Homo sapiens: one gene and its partners. The protein of the gene in region 3 interacts with the protein of the main gene of each other region in a pairwise test. Each region holds a gene or a part of one and is shown on either strand. Other genes may lie near its edges.

What was found. The genes of interacting proteins can lie anywhere in the genome.
Region 1: the proteins of SERPINB9 (region 3) and CCDC90B interact in a two-hybrid assay, tested with the Homo sapiens proteins (one large-scale study listed by BioGRID and IntAct).
Region 2: the proteins of SERPINB9 (region 3) and PLEKHM1 interact in a two-hybrid assay, tested with the Homo sapiens proteins (one large-scale study listed by BioGRID and IntAct).
Region 4: the proteins of SERPINB9 (region 3) and IGSF21 interact in a two-hybrid assay, tested with the Homo sapiens proteins (one large-scale study listed by BioGRID and IntAct).

Annotation. Positions count from the first base shown.
Region 1 is NC_000011.10:83,272,165-83,277,089, forward strand, and holds part of CCDC90B (coiled-coil domain-containing protein 90B, mitochondrial isoform 1 precursor), read right to left. Parts: intron 2,577-4,925; coding exon 2,475-2,576; intron 1,829-2,474; coding exon 1,787-1,828; intron 1,701-1,786; coding exon 1,629-1,700; intron 1,537-1,628; coding exon 1,483-1,536; intron 1-1,482.
Region 2 is NC_000017.11:45,480,019-45,484,943, forward strand, and holds part of PLEKHM1 (pleckstrin homology domain-containing family M member 1), read right to left. Parts: intron 2,508-4,925; coding exon of another isoform or gene 2,467-2,507; coding exon 2,419-2,466; intron 1-2,418. UniProt on the Homo sapiens protein: Acts as a multivalent adapter protein that regulates Rab7-dependent and HOPS complex-dependent fusion events in the endolysosomal system and couples autophagic and the endocytic trafficking pathways.
Region 3 is NC_000006.12:2,892,600-2,897,524, forward strand, and holds part of SERPINB9 (serpin B9), read right to left. Parts: intron 3,592-4,925; coding exon 3,454-3,591; intron 2,910-3,453; coding exon 2,792-2,909; intron 955-2,791; coding exon 812-954; intron 1-811. UniProt on the Homo sapiens protein: Granzyme B inhibitor.
Region 4 is NC_000001.11:18,365,576-18,370,500, reverse strand, and holds part of IGSF21 (immunoglobulin superfamily member 21 precursor), read right to left. Parts: coding exon 4,804-4,925; intron 1-4,803. UniProt on the Homo sapiens protein: Involved in synaptic inhibition in the brain. Selectively regulates inhibitory presynaptic differentiation through interacting with presynaptic NRXN2.

The DNA.
Region 1 (4,925 bases), on a different chromosome or scaffold from region 3:
GGTGCAGCAAACCAACATGGTACATGTATACCTATGTATCAAACTTGCACGTTGTGCACATGTACCCTAGAACTTAAAGTATTAAAAAAAATTTTTTTTTAAAAACACTATAAACTGACGAATTACATTCCTTCTGCTTTCATATTTGGAGATCATCTTTTAGGGGTATGACATACTGGGCATATTCTAAAAACCTCATAATAACATATTTATACCTGAATACATAAGATGATAAACTAAGAAGCAAAAAATTAGGTCACAGAACTATCATTTTATGTGTGTGAAGTCCTTAGGATATTATGGTTAAAACTTTAAATATATTCTGCAAATGGAAAAAAAAATAACCAGGTGTATAATATGAACTGGCGCCAGTATTAAAGGAACTGGCATAAATAACCTGATGGGTAACACTGATACAGGTATAGGGGACAAAGGGTAGGGAGGACAGATGAGACCTAGAGCACAGAAAGTAGTTGTAAAAGATTTTGCTGATTTCCTTGCTTATCTCCTTTATCTGGCCAAGAAGTAAGGGAAGAGAATAAGATCTTTGAAAGAACAAATGTGACCTTCTCTTCTATTAAATTATGAGCAAGAGTGACATATTTTCTGTTAGAATGTGGACAAATGGCTTTGAACTTTTAAGAAAAGGACAAGGCTGAGTCAGAAAGCTGGGTTTTACTCAAGCCACAGAGATGAAGTCATGATTACATTGTAGGATTACTGAGAAGGAGAGCAGTAGTTCCAAGTTAGGGATTTAGAATCCAGGTTCTTTTCCCTAGTGACACCACTTATTAACTGTGGGACCTTAACCCCTCTGTGCTTCATTTTCCAAATTGTTAAAATGGGAATAATAGTGCCTACCTCACAGAGACTGAAATGAATATTAAGTGAATTAACAGATATAAGTAAAGCATGTAAAATGGTATCTGGCACATTAAATAAACACTAAATATTAGTGTTTATATGTTATTAATATATAGCTTTTTTAAAACCTTAAGATAATTATTTAACTGAACCTAGGCACTCATTTAAGTACCAATTATGAAATACCAATAGTGAATCTTTGTCTTTTAAAAAATAGTTATTTTCTTTTTTTTTTTTTTGTTTTTGAGACAGGGTCTTGCTATGTTGCCCAGACTGGTCTTGAACTCCTGCCTCAGCCTCCCAAAGTGCAGGATTAACAGGTGTGAGCTACTGTGCCTGGCCCAAAAAATAGTTATTTTCTATTATAGAAGTAATTTAGTTTAAAAAAGCACACTATGTGGAAATCTTGATTCTTACTTCAAGGTCATGGCTCATGGGCGACCATCTACCTGGTGCCAGGTTCCCCAAAAGTGCTGGTTAACTATAATAGCTATGAGGAAGCCAGAGACTCTACAAGGGTAGTTTTTAAAAGTCTAAACTTATAAACTGGTACACATAAAAGCAGTTATACAAGGCACAAGAACTGTACAAAAGAGACATTTTTACATATTACTTTACCTTTTTTGTAAATTCTGTAGTTGTTTCCATAAGTTGCTTTTCTTGATCTGTAAACTATAGGATATGAAGCAGCAGGAAGTTAAAAAAAAAGTCTAAAAATAAAAAAGGAGTAAGTAACCAAGAAAGTACATTTAAAAGAACATTACCATATCTGTTACTCTGCTCCTTTCTAAGTTGATATCCAGTTTATTATCTGCTCTGATTCGACTGGTTTCATGCTTTAAAGAAAGCAAAGATATTTAAAAAATGATCTTGTAACGAATATTTGTTCTGAAATTAACAGCTAGAAAAAAAATTCACTTACCATTAGTTGTTGCTTAACTTGGTCTAATTCAATTTTCATTTTCTAGGTACAGGAAAGATCACATGCAATTAGCATTAAACCAAGTCTATATTATGATTAAAAAAATCTGAAACCCTAGATTACCAAAATTTGGACAATCTATGGATTTCTAATACAGAATTGATAAGGAAAAAAATCTTCAAAAGAAACTAGTAAGCCACTGTATTCAGAAAATAATTCTTATGAGCAAAATGCATTTGTTTTTATATTATACTTTTAAAAACTGATTTTCTAAATTTAAAAATAAGCTATAGTGGATAACATAACTTAAAATTCTGACTTAATTACAGAAATATACTTTTAAGTCACAAAGACATTTAGTACAGGATTAAATAAAATAGAAAATGCCGTATTACTCTCAGCTCTGAAACCATTATATACAAATTTTATATATATAGCTCAAAGATTTTGTTTTATGTGGTTTTATATGTATAAAATGTAACTCTTATTCTCTTCAGTATGCAAAGCACTATGATTTATATAGAAAAAGATTAGGTATGGTTAAACAAATAGTATGTTTTTAAATCTAAAAACTTATTGTTTACTAACCACATGGAATTATTACTTGGTCTTATTAACTTATTCCTTAAGTAGGATGCTTATTATGAGATCAGTTATTTTATAAGTAATAAATTAAAATTTGTATCACCTCATTCTCTGCTCTCAGATTTGCAAATTCACTTTTCTCTAGGATGACCATGTCTTTCCTGATAGCATCCAAATGAGCCATTAGCTGTTGTACTGTTATTTCCTAGAAAACAAAATAAAAATAACCTAGTGATCTATAGAAAGCCATCTTTTTATTTACAGAATTGTTTTCATGAAATTTAAATGAATTTGTTAACATGCTACAAGGTATAATGTTGACTGGTTAAGTAAATATGAAACCTACATATCTGAAATATCAAAATGAAAAGAAAGAGATTCAAGGAAGAAAAAAAGGATTTCCTAGTGAAGAGAGATAAATTTGTAGGCCTTTGAATGAAAAGAATCTCAATAAAATGCTTCCTTAGACCCTAAGAGTTCCTCAAAAAAAATAATGTTTTGTTCTTATTTTTTGAATACCCAGATGGAAAGGGTTTTATCTCTTATTACTTTGATTTTGAGAGATTTTCTACCACTGGAAAATTCCATGGTATTGGATACGACTCAGAAGTCAGGCAGTAAAACAAAATAGATGTATAGTTAAAATAATTGCCCTTTGTCCGCACAACATAACCAATTTTGTTTAAATTCCTGGGTATCCTCCCTATTATTTGGCACTACAAAGAATATGTGAAAGGTAGCACTTACCTGATAGATTTATAAGCTTTTGCCTCGTTAGGGAGGGACAATTTTGTAGAAATGATTTAAGACAGCCTTACAAAGAAAATATAACTGTTACAGATTGAATATCCCTAATCCAAAAATCTGAAATCCAAAATCTGGAACTTTTTGAGTGCTGACATAACACTCAAAGGAAATGTGCATTGGAGTATTTTGGATTTCAGATTTGGGATGCTCAACTGGTAACTGTATTGCAAATATTCCAAAAAAAAAAAAAAAAATTTGAAATCTGAAACAATTCTGGTCCCAAGCATTTCAGATAAGGGATATTCAACCTGTAGCACTAAACTTCTTAAAATCAGGTAGCTTGCTAATTTCTCTATCCTTTACCAAAAGAAAAAGCAGATGAGGTATAACCTTATTAAGGACTCTGTATAACAGTTTAGAAATAAAACAAGAAAGCCCAAAAAAGAGTGTGAGTTCTGGAGTCAGGCTGTCTAGGTTTGAACCCAAACTCTGCCATTTACTGTGAGATGCCAGCAAGTCATTTAACTTCTCTGGTCTCCTCATTGGTAAAATGGAAATAGTAACAGTACCTGGTACAACTTAAAGAGTTGTTTTGAGGATTAAATGAGATTATGTACATATAATGCTTAAGACAGTACTTGGCATATGGTTAGCACTGAGATGTTAGCTATTATTATTACCGATGGGACAGGGATCTAATGGCTGAAGCAGGATAGTCTAATGCTAATGTATTAATGTGGAGGAAGTTTGGACTTCTTATAATACATAAAAGTTTTTAACTGTGTACAACAGACATTGCTGACTCATGCCTTTTCTAACCCTCATATATTACTGGGGAGGGTTGTTCATTTTCTTTTATTCAGTTCTGCTTGACATATTTTATGAGAATTAATTCAGAAGTCACACAGATGTGGCCTCTAGGGGCTGGCAGTCGTGTTTGCCCCAAATATCACTATAAAGGAATTATATGACATTAAAAATAATGTATTCTTATTACTGAGATTACATAGAAGTTGGAAAGCTAATTACAGACTTCTTGTGGTGTCTGAACCTGAAAATAAGGGATTGTACTGTGGCCTTTTTGAGACAGAGCCTTGCTCTGTCACTCAGGCTGGAATGCAGTGGCGCAATCTTGTCTCACTGCAGCCTCCACTTCCTGGGTTCGAGTGATTCTCGTGCCTCAGCCTCCTGAGTAGCTGGGACCACATGCACCCACCATCATGCCTGGCTAATTTTTTTGTATTTTTAGTAGAGACAGGGTTTTGCCACGTTGGCCAGGCTGGTCTCGAACTTCTGACCTCAAGTGATCTGCTCACCTCAGCCTCCTGAAGTGCTGGGATTACAGGCGTGAGCCACCACACCAGCCTTAATGTGGCTCTTAAGAGCCTCTTTTTACCTCATTCTTCCTTTAAATACAGACTCAAAAAGCCTACAAAACTGCACAGGTGTCCATCTGTAACAACTTTAAATGTACACATAATCCATTGTTAAGTAGCTAAATCTATTAAAAGTGTGATTTTTTTAAACTACTATGGAGCCATCAGAGAATATTCAGATTTTAATCAAAATCACAATATAATCAAATTTTCAGAATAAGACTTTATTATTTTATTTTTTCCCCCTCATCCTGCTAGCTGACTTGTTTTCATATGGCCCTTTCTGAAGTGATCAAGTATGCAGCTTAATGGCCTATGACCCTGAGCCTTAGCTTCACCCTTCATGACATCTCTGTGCCTTATTCTATACTAGAGGTGGGGTCAGCAATTGAATTAGGTTCAAGAACAGAACAGGATTATTTAACTTCAGA
Region 2 (4,925 bases), on a different chromosome or scaffold from region 3:
CAGCCAAAACACTAAATGTTAACATTCTTTGAAAAGTTAAATTTGAAAAAATATAACGGTTTTAATGAGATATAATTCATATACCATAAAATACACCCATTTAAAGTATACAGTTCAATTGTTTCTAGTATATTCACACAATTGTGCAACCATCACCACTACCTAATTTTAGAAGATTTTCTGGCCGGGCACAGTGGCTCACGCCTATAATCCCAGCACTTCGGGAGGCCAAGACGAGTGGATCACCTGAGGTCAGGAGTTCGAGACCAGCCTGGCCAACATGGTGAAACCCCCATCTCTACCAAAAATACAAAAATTAGCCGGGCATGGTGGTGCACACCCATAATCCCAGCTACTTGGGAGGCAGAGGCATGAGAATCACTTGAACCTGGGAGGTGGAGTTTGTAGTGAGTCAAGATTGTGCCACTGCACTCCAGCCTGGGCAGCAGAGGGAGACTCCGTCTCAAAAAAACAAAAAAACAAAAAAACAAAAAAACAAACAAAAAAAACGATTTTCATCACCCCAAAAAGAAATACTGTATATTAGTGATTGCCAGGGGCTGGGAGAAAGGGGAATACGAAGTGAATGCAGTCACTAATCTATTTTCTGTTTCTGTGGCTTTGCATATTTTGTACATCTCACATGAATAGATATCAATACAGCATATGACCCTTTGAATCTGACTTATTTCACTTAGCATATTTTCCATCATGTTGTAGCATGTATCAGGACTTCATCCCTTTTTATTGCCAGAAAATATTCCGCTGCCTAGATATACCACATTTTATTCATCCATTCATCAGTTAATAGACATTTGGGTTGTTTCTACTCTTTTGCTATTATCAATAATGCTGCTATGAACATCCATGTACAAGTTTTTGAGTGGACTTATATTTCTAGTTCTCTTGGGTATATATCTAGGAGTGGAACTGTACACATAACCCTATGTTTAACTTATCAAGGAACTGCCAAACTGTGTGCCAAAGTGGCTGCACTATTTTACATTCCCACCAGCAATATATGAGTTCCAATCTCTCCACATTTTTGCCAGCACTAGTTATTGCCTTTTTTATTACAGCCATCCTAGGGGGTGTGAAGTAGTATCTCACTGTGGTTTCGATGTGCATTTTCCTGATGTCTAATGATAATGAGCATCTTTATTGGCCATGTGTGTATCTTCTTTGGAGAAGGGTCTATTTAAATCCTTTACCCATTTTATAACTGGATTATTTGTCTTTTTATTGTTGAGTTATAAGTGTTCTTTATACATTCTGGATACTAGACCCTTATCAGATATTTGATTTGCAAATATTTTCTCCCATTCTGTGGGTTGTCTTTTCATTTTCTTGGTAGTATCCTTTGAAGCTCAAAAGTTTTTAATCTTGAAATAGTCTAATTTTAAATGTTCTTTTAAAAGCAAGATGTTATTTGTATATTATATTTAAAAAGTACATACATACTTCGTTCAATTGAGCACCTACTAGGTGTTGGGTTAGGGTATACAGGGAGAAATAAGGCATACCCTCAAGAAAGGCATACCCTCATGGAGTCAGTTTGTGCAGCTGTTGTTAGAAGGCTGGGTTGGCCAGGCTTCTGCCCTAGCTCTGGAGGGTCCTGGGGTGGGATTCGGCAGGCACTGGGGGTGGGAGAGTGGGGGTGCAGAGGGGAGGGAAGAGCCTCTGCATGAAAGCCAGCTGGGAAACAGGTGGAGCTGGACTCTCCTGTGGCCAGGACGGGGAAAGGCACGTCTCTGAGAGCTACAGTTTCTTTCAAGCAGAGTTCTCTGAGCTGGGAAGCAGCAGTGGGGAGGAAAGGAAATCCTGGCTTCTCCCCGAAAGCCATCTCAGGATGCTGCTAAGGGACCAGCCCCAAAGCTACCTGACTTCCTGCCTCTCCAAGAGAACAGAGAGCTCTATCTGGAGTACCCAAGATAGCCCAGGAGGGTGCAAAGGGCTGTCCAAGAAAAGGTCCTAGGGGGCTCCAGTGAACTGCTCACAAATAATTACATTTAGAATATCCTAGAAAATGGTAAGTGTTCAGATACATGTAAGTTACCAATTTACCCCCATTACTGAAACAACAAACCAGTGCCTGGGAATATCTGTTTCCCACCCATTCAGTGCTTTGGCCAGACTGTGACCAAATCATGGCCTAAGGGCAGAGGGCTGAAGGGCTGAATGGAAATCCTTGGTCTTCAGGTTACTGATCTTAAATTCCCACTGCTTTTCATAAATCTCCATCTTATCACCAATAAGGTGATCTAGAAAAGACAGGGTCTCCTCAGAGCCTGCTTGTGCTGTAACTTTTTCTCAACCTGGTCTCTCTTGCAGGACAGTGCCCAAGGAAGTGAGCCAAGCCGATGATACAACTGTCCCCTGCAGCCCTTCCCCGCCCTTGATCCTCCCTCACCCACCTACCGGGATGGCAGCCTGGGGGTCCAGTCCATTCTCCACCACTGAAAGCATCTCCACTCACGCAGCTGCTCCCTCAGAGAATCACATGACACCTGAAGAGACAGATGGCAGCCAGATGAATGGGCAGGGAACTTTCCCCCAGCCAGAGTCCATTCCCAGCAAGCAGCAGGAGGTCAGCCTCTCTTACTCAAACTGCAACCAAAAAGGCCTTTGCAGAACACAAAAGTAAAAACTGATAATAGATTTGAAGGAAAGAAACAAGGAAGGAAAGCCCAGGGGGCTTAGTCGTTGGGAGGCAAGGAGTCCTGGGTGCCAGGGGTGGGTCCACCCCAAGGAGTAGGTGGTAAGGGCGCTTCACATCAAATGCTGCCCAGAAAGCCAAGGCCCTGTAGGATTGAAACCTGTAGGCAGGGAACGACAGGCTGATTCAGATACGGAGCTGCAGGTTCGAGGGGGAGGCTGCAGCTGAAGGTGGCAGGAACCCAATGGGACCAGGAAGCAGGGGCTCACAGGCTCACACATCACATTCAGGGGCTGGGTCCTGCAACACCCTGCCCCCACCCCTCACTCCTGTCCCAGTCCAACATCTGCCAGCTCAGCAGTAAAAAGTACCACTGGAACGGCTTCAAAAGGGGAGGGCTCCCTTGCTACACTTCTGCTCCTCATTTGGGCTTCGAGGGTCTGGCTTGAGCAGCACAGACAGGGACGTGTCTAACCGGGATGACCATGAGGTCTCATCGCAGTTTGCCACTAACCAGGTAGGCATGCTCAGACCTCTCAGATGGAGAATGTGTAAAATGCCTGTCACGGGGCCTGATATGTACCTGTACCTGATATGTTGTACCTGGCATCTGTCATCCCAGTGGATGTGGCCACCTAAACCTACAGACCAAGAATGTCATCACCTAAATGAGTATGCAGGAAGAGCTGAAGTCAGTGAGTGGTTAAATCCCTCAGGGCTGCCAGCTTCCTCCTGGAAGTGGGTGGGGTGGGGTGGGGTGGGGTGGGGTGGGGCGGGTGGGGTGGGGACTTTAGCCTGAGCCTGAGGGGGCTGCTGACTGGCTTGGCCCCACCACAGCAACTTGGACAGACCTGGGCCAGGCAGGCACATTCACACGTAAACAAATCTCTAGCCAACTCCTGGCTGAGCATCAGGGGAAAGGGAAAGGTGATGTCTGTCTCAGCTCTCAATCACCGCACAAAGAAGTTAACAAAACCAAGAAAAGTTAAATGGGCTCAGTTCTCTTTACATATATTGCCTAATTTATGTTCCTCCTAAGGACCCTAGGAGTGCTGTTTTATTGTCTCCACCTGACAGATAAGGAAATGGCAGCTGACCCAGGTCAAGGAAGTTCCTGAGGTCCCAGGGCTGATAAGCGGCCTGACTCCACCACCAGCCCCCAGGAGGAAGCCAACCCCAGCCCTAGGAAAACCCGATTCCTGAGTGAGTGCTGTAAACCAAAAATAAAATTCTAAGCTCCCCAACTGCCTGAATGGGCCCCCCTTGGCCAAAGGGATTTCAAAAAAACTGAAAACTGAGTTCAGGCCATGACACGAAGTGGGGCGTGGGCCATGCCTCATCCTAGCCTCTCCCTTTTGGAGCTTAGACACAACTGACCAGCATTAACATTAAAACAGACTCCTAAGACTGACAGAACAGACTCTCAGCAATTAAGATACCAACTCCAACCTGACTGGTCTAACATCACATGGGAGATAACAGGCCCTAAGGAAATCAAAGTATCTTACCCCCAAGTATATTTTTGACATAGTTTGGAATGGCCCTGCAAAGCCATCTCTTGTTGGGAAAATTTATGTCCTGCAGAGATTCCCTTCCCTTTCTAGGCCTTTTCCTGATTTAGAGGAGATTTAACTAAGAGTCTGACACCTTAGAGACATTTACCATCTATTCTCTTGAAGGCTTCATCTACGTTACATGAACCTTGGCTTTCACAACCCACCTTATCTTAACCCCAAGCTTTTCTTCTGCTGACTTTTAACTCTTTAGGCAAAGTTTAACTTTTTCAGCCAATTGCCAATCAGGAAAATCTTTTAATCCACCTTACCCTGTCCCCACCAATGTATACCTTACATATATCAATTTATGTCTTTGCCTGTAACTTCTGCCTGTAACTTGGATAAAAATCAAGCTGTACCCCAATCACCTTGGGCACATGTTCTCAGGACCTCCCAGGACTATGTCACAGGTCATGGCCCTCACATTTGGCTCAGAATAAACCTCTTCGAATATTTAACAGAGTTTGGCTTTTTCATCAACAGTGCCATCACCTCAGAGCTAGGATTCCAGGGGTGGTCTGGGAAGACCCTTTCGCTGGGGGCCGGGAACAGGGGGTGCAGGGGAACATTAAGGCCAGTGTGGCAGGAAAGGTTTCCTGGACAGCCCTGGAGCAGCATGAGGTTTGGAAAGCAGACAGGCAGGCTGGCCCTAAATGGTGGAAGGTGCTCTGATTGGATCTCTGGCTTCTGGGGATAGCAGAGGGCAAACAGGA
Region 3 (4,925 bases):
ACGTAATACTTTAAAAAATTGATACAGATCATTTATTATAAAAATTAAAATAGTTCTAAAACCAGGGTTAGAATTCTCCTCCTCCCACCCTTTGCAACTAGAGAACTAATTTTTTTAAGTTAAAGTACACCTTACAAAAAATGCAGGAGGGTTACCTGCTTTTGTTTTTTAATTACATTAAAATAGTATCTTTTTAGGGGCTGGAAGATTTGGCAAATTATTCTAATGCCTGCCTTAATTAAGTTTTACTTCAATGTCAAAACTAAGGTCTTTGTCATGAAGTTTTAATATTAAAAAGCTGTAAATACTGAATTAATGATAATTAGTTAACAATTCAAATCAAAACTTACTTTAATTTTAAAAATAACTAATTAAAGACACATGTTTTCACCTTCTCTCCCTCTACCCTGCCCTATACTGCCTCTCACTCCCACATATCACACTACCTTAACACTTTTTTTTTTTTTTTTTTGCTTTCTAGCCAAGTAAATTGGGCTTATAGGAAGATCTTTAGTTTCCAAAACTAGGTGGCAGCAATGGTTTATGAGAAATTATCAAAGGCAGTTAAGAGCAGTGATAAAACACTACATATATATATATATATTATATATACGTATATATAATATATATATGCAGCAAATATCTTTTACTCCTTCCGTTTTTTTCTACTGAGTTAAGAAATTCATTCAGAAATACTTTAAGTTTCAAATTCCTTTTGGCTTACGCTTATGTCACTTACACTTTTACAAAGTTAAATCTTTCCATTCAACTTCTTCATCAAACTAGCAGGATTTTAAAAAGCTTCCCCCACCTGGTTTATTTTAAAGGGCATTTCCCTTGTGTATGTTTCGTCAAACGGTTCATTCCACTTTCCTTTGAAGTAGATGGCATTGACAAGAACCAGCCTGGTTTCTGCATCAATTGAGCTACCCGGCAACAACTCTTCAATTTTACCTTTCAAGAAAAGTAGAGACTACATTCAGTTGCTTTTTATAAGAACCTGATGCATTGGATGATCCTGGATCATTAGTTGAGAAGCAAACTTCTGTTTTCAACTTTGCTGAGTTTGGGTTGTTATGTAGAGAAATAAAAACAGCACATATGAGTGGTATTCATGATTACTGACACCTTGAGAACATCCACCAAGTTGAGGATGGTGAAAGATACCTAAGTCACTCGAGGAAAGCAGGTTGGTACAAAGTAGAAAAATTACACCAGGTTGGAGAACAAGACCAGCAGGAAATGTGATAGGCTGAAGGGGTGTTTGTCTCACATGGTTAATTGGAGTGTTTGATCCAACCCTTCATGATCACACCCAGTTCTAACATTCTGTGACTATACATGGACATGTCAGAAGCAACCAGAATGGACGGCTCAAAGCGGGAAGAGCTGACATTGGGCACATGGGGAGTTTCCAGAAGCTTTTGGAGGAGATATTCCTGCTGAATCCCCTCAACAAAGCACTAGGCATCCCTGGAAAAGAGGATGTGGGCAAACAAAGATCACCCCTTCTTTCCCTGGAGATCAAGTGGTACTGTTTCAATGAACTGAGGGCATCCCTGCTAACCCACTGCCTGAAGAGAGCATCCGTGGTAAATACTCCAAGCAGGAATGCGGGAAACAACTGCTGAGACTTTAAGCGAAGAACGTCTCCCATTCTTTACCGTCTCATTTATTCACAGAAATGGAAATGTTCCTGGTGGTACTAAGCATAATTGGCGCAGAGGAGTCTGAATGGTTCATCAGACCATCATTGGTCTTGGAGGCCTAGACTGGAACACGTCACTTTCTGAAATGTAGATGAATAAGGTTCAACCCCAAATGGAGGGTATTTTCAGTCTGTGGAACTGATCAGCCCTGAGAGAGGGTCGGCAGTTAACCAATCAAATGTAGGCTTATCAAGTCAAACTAAAGGAGCTTAAGTGGAAGACATGAAAAGTCAGGAGTGACCTTAGCAGGTAAAGGTAATGGTGATGGAGGTCCCCCAGAACCTAGGAAGAGGCAGCCCAAGTGTATACCTCAGGCAAGATCTGTCCACCAATCTCCTTCTCGCAGAGACAATGGAGTCACCTGACATGTGAATGTTACAGGCCAGGGAGAGTATATTTTAATGCAAGTTATTAAACTGGAAACCTGGCCTGAGATTCTTTTGACATTTGTTTTTTTGTTTGTTTTTTGTTTTTGAGACAGGCTGGAGTTCAGTGGCATGATCTCAGCTCACTACAACTTCTGCCTCCCAGGTTCAAGTGATTCTCATGTCTCAGCCTCCCAAGCAGCTGGGATTACAGGCATGGGCCACCACACCTGGCTAATTTTTGTATTTTTAGTAGAGATGTTGGGCGGGGGGGGGTCCCACCATGTTGGTCAGGCTGGTCTCGAACTCCTGACCTCAAGTGATATGTCCACTTCGGCCTTCTAAATTGCTGGGATTACAGGCGAGAGCCACCGTGGCTGGCCCTCTTTTGACATTTGTATCAGCTACTCTGGTCCTGGGAGAATAGACAAAAGTAAATCTCTGTTGCTGAAAACCTGAATGTCTGATCAGAACCTTTATGAGTCCATCAAGGTTCAGTATGCCAGGAGGCCCTGCCAGTCAACACTACTCTGACCATCTGAAACACCCGTGAAATTAGAGGGGGCGGAGTGGAGAGGTGGAGGTGGGTGAGGAGAGGGAGGAGGGATAGGAGGGAGAGGAGGAGGAGAGAGGATATAAGAGGCGGGAAGGAGGAATAGGAAGAGCCGCAGGAGGAGGACGGGTTGGGAGGAAGGTGCAATAACTTGTCATTCTGACCTTCGGTCTTTTTTGAGACCCAGGTGTTGATGTGTTTCCTGGACTCTTCTGCAGCTCTGATAAAGGAAAGCTCCTTCAGCTCAGCATGGTAGAATTGAAGACAGGATTCCTTAAACGTCTTTGGAGAGAAAAATGTTCAGTGAGGCTGCATTGCTAAATACAAATGTCAGCAAACTTCCAAAAATTCTAAATATGTTATCTTTTTTTAATAAAAAGAATATACATAACTCTTTAAAAGTGATCATATGAAGATATGTTAAAATATCAGAGTTTGTGAATAGGTATGTATTGAACCCTGAATAACCAGAAATGAACTTGAGAATTTTACCTTTCAATTTTACCTTTCAAGAAAAGTAGAGACTACTTTTGCAATACTAATGCAAGGTATAATTATAGAATTGCAGTCTTTAAAAAAAAAAAGAAGTTTAGGCTGGGCGTGGTGGCTCACATCTGTAATCCCAACAGGCAGGAGGATCACTTGAGACCAGGAGTTTAAGACCAGCCTGGGCAACGTAGTGAGACCCCATCTTAGAAAAAAAAATAGTGCAATTTTTTTAAATTGGTTAACATAAATTTCTCAATTTCTCTAGGGTCTTTCTCCCAGACTCTATATCACCAGGTATGTTGAATGCAACTTTTATTGTTCTATTGATTCAACTTACTGAGAGGAACTGACAAGTTTTCTCTCCAAAGAGCCTGTTGGCCGTTCTCAGCAGGTACTGTGTGCCAGCCTTGTTCACTTCAGTGAGAAGCGACTGGAAAGCCCGATGAATGTCTTCCTCTGTGTTTAAAGACAGTGCCTGTTGTGAAAGATAATTTTAAAAGTTATCAAGATAGCTCTTTGATGGCTGGGGAGAGGAGAGAGAGGGGACAGAAAACAGGCGAGTAAAAGATGTAGCCATTCTGCCTGAATGGATCTCGCTTGTTTAAAGATCAGTAACACACAAAAAATGACAAGGGTGAGAAAAGCTCAGAAAAGAGGTTGTGATAAAATCTTGCATCAAAAGGAAAATATAAATGTACCCTAAGTGGTGGGAAAATTACCTCTAAAATTTATAGTGAAAAAAAAAGATGCAGTTAAAAAGTTAAAAGCAGAAAAAATGCATGGAAAAATAGACGGAAATACAATCATCAGAATCCTCAAAAGGAAACAAGGATATTACATGAGCAATGTGATTAATAAGACAATAACACAGTTATTAAAATTGTACCCTATAGGGACTACATGTGTGTATATTAAATATTTCAAAATATATCACACATATTGGGCCATAAGAAAAGTCTCAACATCCCAATACATTCTGAAATACAGAATTATATAGATCATATTCTCTAACTTCAATGTAGTAACAAAAAATCAGCATTATAAATAAAATGCCAACAAAATGAAAATCACCTACAAAATATTACTGAAAACACTTTTCTAAATAATTAACTCTTCAAAGTAAAAATTAAAATACTTTTCTAGGCCAGGCACAGTGGCTCATGCCTATAATCCCAGCACTTTTGGAGGCCAAGGCAGGAGGATTGTTTGAGCCCAAGAGTTTGAGGCTAGCCTGGGCAACATTGCAAGATCCCATCTCCACTTAGCTGGGCATGATGGTGTGTGCCTGTGGTCCCAGCTACTTGGAAGGCTGAGATGGGAGGATTGCTGGAGCCCAGGACTTTGAGGCTGCAGTGAGCTATGATCAAGCTGCTGCACTCCAGCCTAGGAGACAGAGCAAGACCATGTCAAAAAAAAAAAAAAAACACAAAAAATCCTCTTCTAAACAAATATTTAAAATATTCTTCTAGGCTGGGCACAGTGGCTCATGCCTGTAATCCCAGCACTTTGGGGGGCCGAGGCGGGCAGATCACTTGAGGTCAGGAGTTCAAGACCAGCCTGGCCAAGATGGCGAAATCCTGTCTCTACTAAAAATACGAAAATTAGCCGGGTGTGGTGATGCTTGCTGGTAATCCCAGCTACTTGGGAGGCTGAGGCAGGAGAATCACTTGAACCCAGGAGGCGGAAGTTGCAGTGAGCCAAGGTCATACCACTGCACTCCAGCCTGGGCAACAGAGCAAGACTCCTTCTCAAAAAACAAACAAACAAACAAATTCTTCTAAATAAGTATATGACATATGATTTAGAAAA
Region 4 (4,925 bases), on a different chromosome or scaffold from region 3:
GAGGCTTCATGATGCTGACTTCTACTTTTAAATCTATGATTCATTTCAAATTAATTTTTGTGTGTGTGCGAGGCAGGGGTCCAGGTTTAATTTTTCCTTATGCCTATTCATTTGTTTCAGGGTCATTTTTTAAGAGAACTTCTCTTTCCTGATTGAACCGCCTTGGGGGTCTTTGGCAAAAATCAATGAACTCTGTGTATGTAGATCTATTTCTGGACTCTATCCTGTTTTGTCAATCTATTTGTCTACCACAGGAAGGTTTTGGGCGGGTGTCATGATCTGATTTATATTTTAAGTAGATCAATCGGGGTGGGAAATAGGATAGGGTGAAAGTGGAAGCAGAACGATCAGTTTGAAGGCTACTCTAATAACCCAGGCTTGAACTGATGGTGCTTGGGTTGGGTATTTGGAGAGGAGACCGTGAGGAGTGGCAGATTTGGGATATATTCTGAAGTTGAGCTGCCAGGGCTTAATGATGGTTTGCATGTGGGATAGGAGGGAAGAGTGGAAAAGGTGAGGGGTCTGCAAGGCTTCTGGTTTGATCAATGGGAAGGACATGGTTGCCATTTAGTGAGATGGGTGCCAGGACGCTCAGGCATCTGTGGTCCAGATTACGAGAAAGGTACAAATCTGGTGAGACAAGAACTGAGAAGAGGCACAAACAGCTCAAAGGGTTGGGGGAGAGTCAGAGAAATCTTCCTGGAGGGGTGGCATTTCAGCTGCGGAGGGCATCCCTGCAAGGGAAGAGGAGGAGCGAAGGCTCATTGCAGGGAGACACATCCCACCCTCGTTGGCCTGATCTTCAAAATCCTTGTTGAATGATTGGATTTTGTGCTCTGAGGTCATCTAATCCGTCCCACTGTCTCACCCAGAGTGCAGGGTGCCCTGATGGTGCAAGGTGCATACACTCACGACTCTTTGGCTCATGGCACATTCCACTGGTCATATCCCCTGGCTCAGTGACGTCTCACCACAGCCCTGACAGGTGGGCTGTAGAGCACAGTGGTTAAGAATGTGAGATCTGGGGCCAGACAGCCTTGGCTGGCTGACCTAAGAAAGGTTACTCTAAACCTGAGTCCCTCACCTCTCAGATGGGAATAATATGATAGCAACTCTCAGCGGCCTCACAGGTTCACTGCAGGTTTAAAGGAGACCTGGTGAGGAAAGCATCTTGCAGAGAGCCTGGCTCTGAGTAGGTGCTCAAAACATTTGTGCAGTTACTATTCTCCCCCTTCATCAGGTCAGAAAACTGAGACTCAGAGACGTTAAGAAGTCTGAATTCTCACTCAGCAGTCGAGGGAGGCTAGGAAGTCAGCCCAGGTGTCTCTTTACTCACCCACCCAATTAGGGCCCTTCATCTTGGTGGCCCTGCTGTGTCCCCCATGCCCCAAATCCCCCGGTGTGTGCAGACCTGCCTGTCCAGGCCCACTGCTTATGAGTGGGCCCTTCTTTCTCTTGCTCTGATGATGAGTGGGGGTGCCCACAGAGGCGGCTCCAGTTAAGGGAGGGCCTGGGATCCAGGACAGAGCAGGCAAGTGCTTTAATGTGGTTTGGGGTGCTGTTGATAGGGGTCACACAGGCCAGCAGAGGCACACCCCCTCTCATCACTAGAAGATGTCAGCTACAAGCTCACTTTTCACCAGCTGCCTTGAAGTCTGTATCTGGCCTTTCATCTTTCTCCTCCTTATTCTTGGTGGGGTGGGGCAAGGGTGCCACCCCGCTGGAAGCCAGAGCTTCCACAAGAGGGGCAGGAGGGGGCTTTCATAAATGAAGCAACCAGGTAAAGGGTGGAGGCTGCTCTGTCAGGGGAGGAAGAGGCCATGGAAGGATGGAGGGTCCAGAGAGAGGAGTGAAGGGCTGGAAAAGCAGGAGGACCAAGAGAGGGGTCGGAGCAGGCTCTGGGTTGGGAAGATCCCAGCACTTAGTACAGGGCCTGGCCTTGTGATGCTTGTAATATCTTTTTTCCCCCCAACTTTTTTTTTTTCTTTTTGAGATGAAGTCTCACTCTATCACCTAGGCTGGAGTGCAGTGGTGCAATCTCGGCTCACTGCAGCCTCTGCCTCCTGGGTTCAAGTGATTCTCCTGTCTCAGCCTCCTGAGTAGCTGGGATTATAGGCACACACCACCAAGCCCAGCTAAGTTTTGTATTTTTTTTTTTTAGTAGAGATGGGGTTTCACCACATTAGTCAGGCTAGTCTTGAACTCCTGACCTCATGATCCACCCGCCTTGGCCTCCCAAAGTGTTAGGATTACAGGCGTGAGACACTGTGCCTGGCCCTGCTTGTGATATCTTTATGGAATGATGAACAAAGAGTACCCAGGAAGTGGGCACCTGTGACAGAGGGACGCCGTGAGGAGGCAGAGTGAGAGGCTTAGAGCAGACTCTGGAGCCTTTGAATTCTCCCCCACTCACCTTGGGCAACTTAACTTCCCTGAGCCTCAGCTTCCTCCTCTGTGACATGGGATAATAATGGTGCCTGTCTCACTGGGTTAATATAAGAGAGGCCACAGTCTGTGGCATATAGTAGGTGCTCACTAAATGTTAGCCTTTATTTTTAGTTTCTGTATGGGCAGGTGGCCTGTGAAAATCAAAAGGCTGCTGGGTGCGGTGGCTCACGTCTGTAACCCCAGCACTTTGGAGGCCGAGGCAGGTGGATCACCTGAGGTTGGGAGTTTGAGACCAGCCTGGCCGATATGGTGAAACCCCACCTCTATTAAAAAAAAAAATTAGCAGGATGTGGTGGAAGGCACCTGTAATCCCAGCTACTTGAGAGACTGAGGCAGGAGAATCACTTGAACCTGGGAGGCTGAGGTTGCAGTGAGCCAAGATCACCCACTGCACTCCAGCCTGGGTGTGACAGAGCCAGACTCTGTCAAAAAAAAAAAAAAAAAAAAAAGAGAGAGAGAGAGAATATCAAAGGTCCATTGTAATGGGTCTTCAGGGAACCAGTCCCATAACCAGTCAAGACACCACATCCTGGGGCTGGTGAGTTCAGTGGTTGGCATGGTAGTGAGTGAAGAAGGCACCAATAAACTTGGCTTGAAATTTCAACGCCGCTACATACAAAGTTAACGACTTGGCAAAGTACTCTACCAACTTGAGCCTCAGTTTTGCTCATATGCAAAATGAGACTACACAGCCAACTTGTGCTTGTGAGGATTGGATGAGAATCCTTGCAGATGTTCCTGGCACATAGTACATACTATCCGTACAAGAAATCCTTTTCTTTGGTATTTGATACTGAGGAGGTGTTGGGTTTTCTGATGGTCCAGATGAAACAGAAGCTCTCTAGAACACCTGACACAAGCTGCAGTCCCAATTCTTGTCAGTTACTGCTCTCAGTCCTTGGTCATGAGTGGCCTGGGTTAGAGGCTGTGGACTGCTCCAGGCAGCCCCTGACACTACAGGAGTTTTGGAGTATGAGCCCAGGCATCTCGGGCTCAGGGAGGAGCTGCTGGGGGCTGCAAATCAAGGTTCAAAGGACATAGGGGAAAGGACAAGCACAGGTCATCGTGCCCATCCCCTGCCCTCGCCCACCCAGTCCATACAAACAACTGGAGATGAGTCTTGTATATTTTCAGCAACGAAGATTCCACATCTCCCCTTTCCCTGCCCTGAGTCAGTGGGGAGGACCAGTATAAGGGGAAGAGAGTGAGTTACCAGGGAACTGCTTTGGGGATCCCTGGGTTGGTGCTCTGTGGGGAGAGGTGCAGATCATGGACATGGATTAGATTCTTGGGCTGAGCTGTCTCTGGGCAGCCAGTGTCCTCTTTGCCTGCCTCCCACATACCCACAGATGACAGGGTTTTCATTGTACTTAAAAGTGTAAGCCGGAGTGATATCCTTCCATGTCCTATGTGTTCCTGACCCCAACCTGGCAAAAATTCCTATGACTTTCAGAATTCTCGAACCCGATCCAGCAAAGCCTGCAACCTCCCAGGTTTGCAACCCTTATGCAGCAACTGTCCTCTGAGCTCACTGGGCTCATATGCAATCCAGAAAATCTCCCTGTCACCTCCCATGTTCCCACCTGTGATGTAGAAAACTCCCCTGAGCATGCCATGACCTCAAGGTTCCTCTCCTTGATCCGACAAATGTCCCCTGATCTCTTGTGCTCCTGAGGCTGACTAGAAAAATCTTGACCTCCCCTGGTCTTCACGCTGACCTATGCTTCTGACTTGACTCAGCAACCCTTCCTGAAGAAACCCGACTCTTGTGTATACTTTATTTACCCAGCAAACATCCTGGTTCCAGTTTTGACCTAGAAAACCTCCCCTGTTTTTAACACCAATCCAGCATATTTCTCTGACTTTCCATCTTTTTTATCTGGACTGTACAAACTCCCTGACCTCTCATGTTGCTGACCCAGCCCAGTGACTCCCTTGCTTTTCCCCAACCTCTTATGTTCCTGACCCAACCCAGCAAATCTCCTCAATCTCTTGTTTCTGACCCTTCCAGAAGACCTCCTAGACCTCCCATGTTCCTGATCTAATCCAGGAACTCCTCTGACCTCCCCTGATCTCCTGTGTCCCTGACCCTATCCAGCAAACTCTTCTGACCTCTCATGTTCTTGGCTCAACCCAGCAAACTACCTTGGCCTGTGGGTACCTCCCATCTTCTCCAATCCAGCTCAGCAAACCTCCCTAAGAACCTGACTCTACCATTTGTGCTCATCCTGACTCCAGTTTGCTCCATCTCCTCCCCCTTTCCATGGCTGTCCTCAGCCCAGGAACCCTATTCCAAGGCTCTCCCCACACCCAGGTCTGCAAGGGCTCTACAGAAGGGCCCCCACCAAGTCTTACCCAGCGTGACCTCTGCCTGCATGGGCATCGACAGAGCTGGGTGCTTGACCTCGCAGCTGAAGAGGGCCTCGTTGTCGATCTGTGGGTTGAGGGTCCAGGTGAGCAGGGCACGTACTTCCACA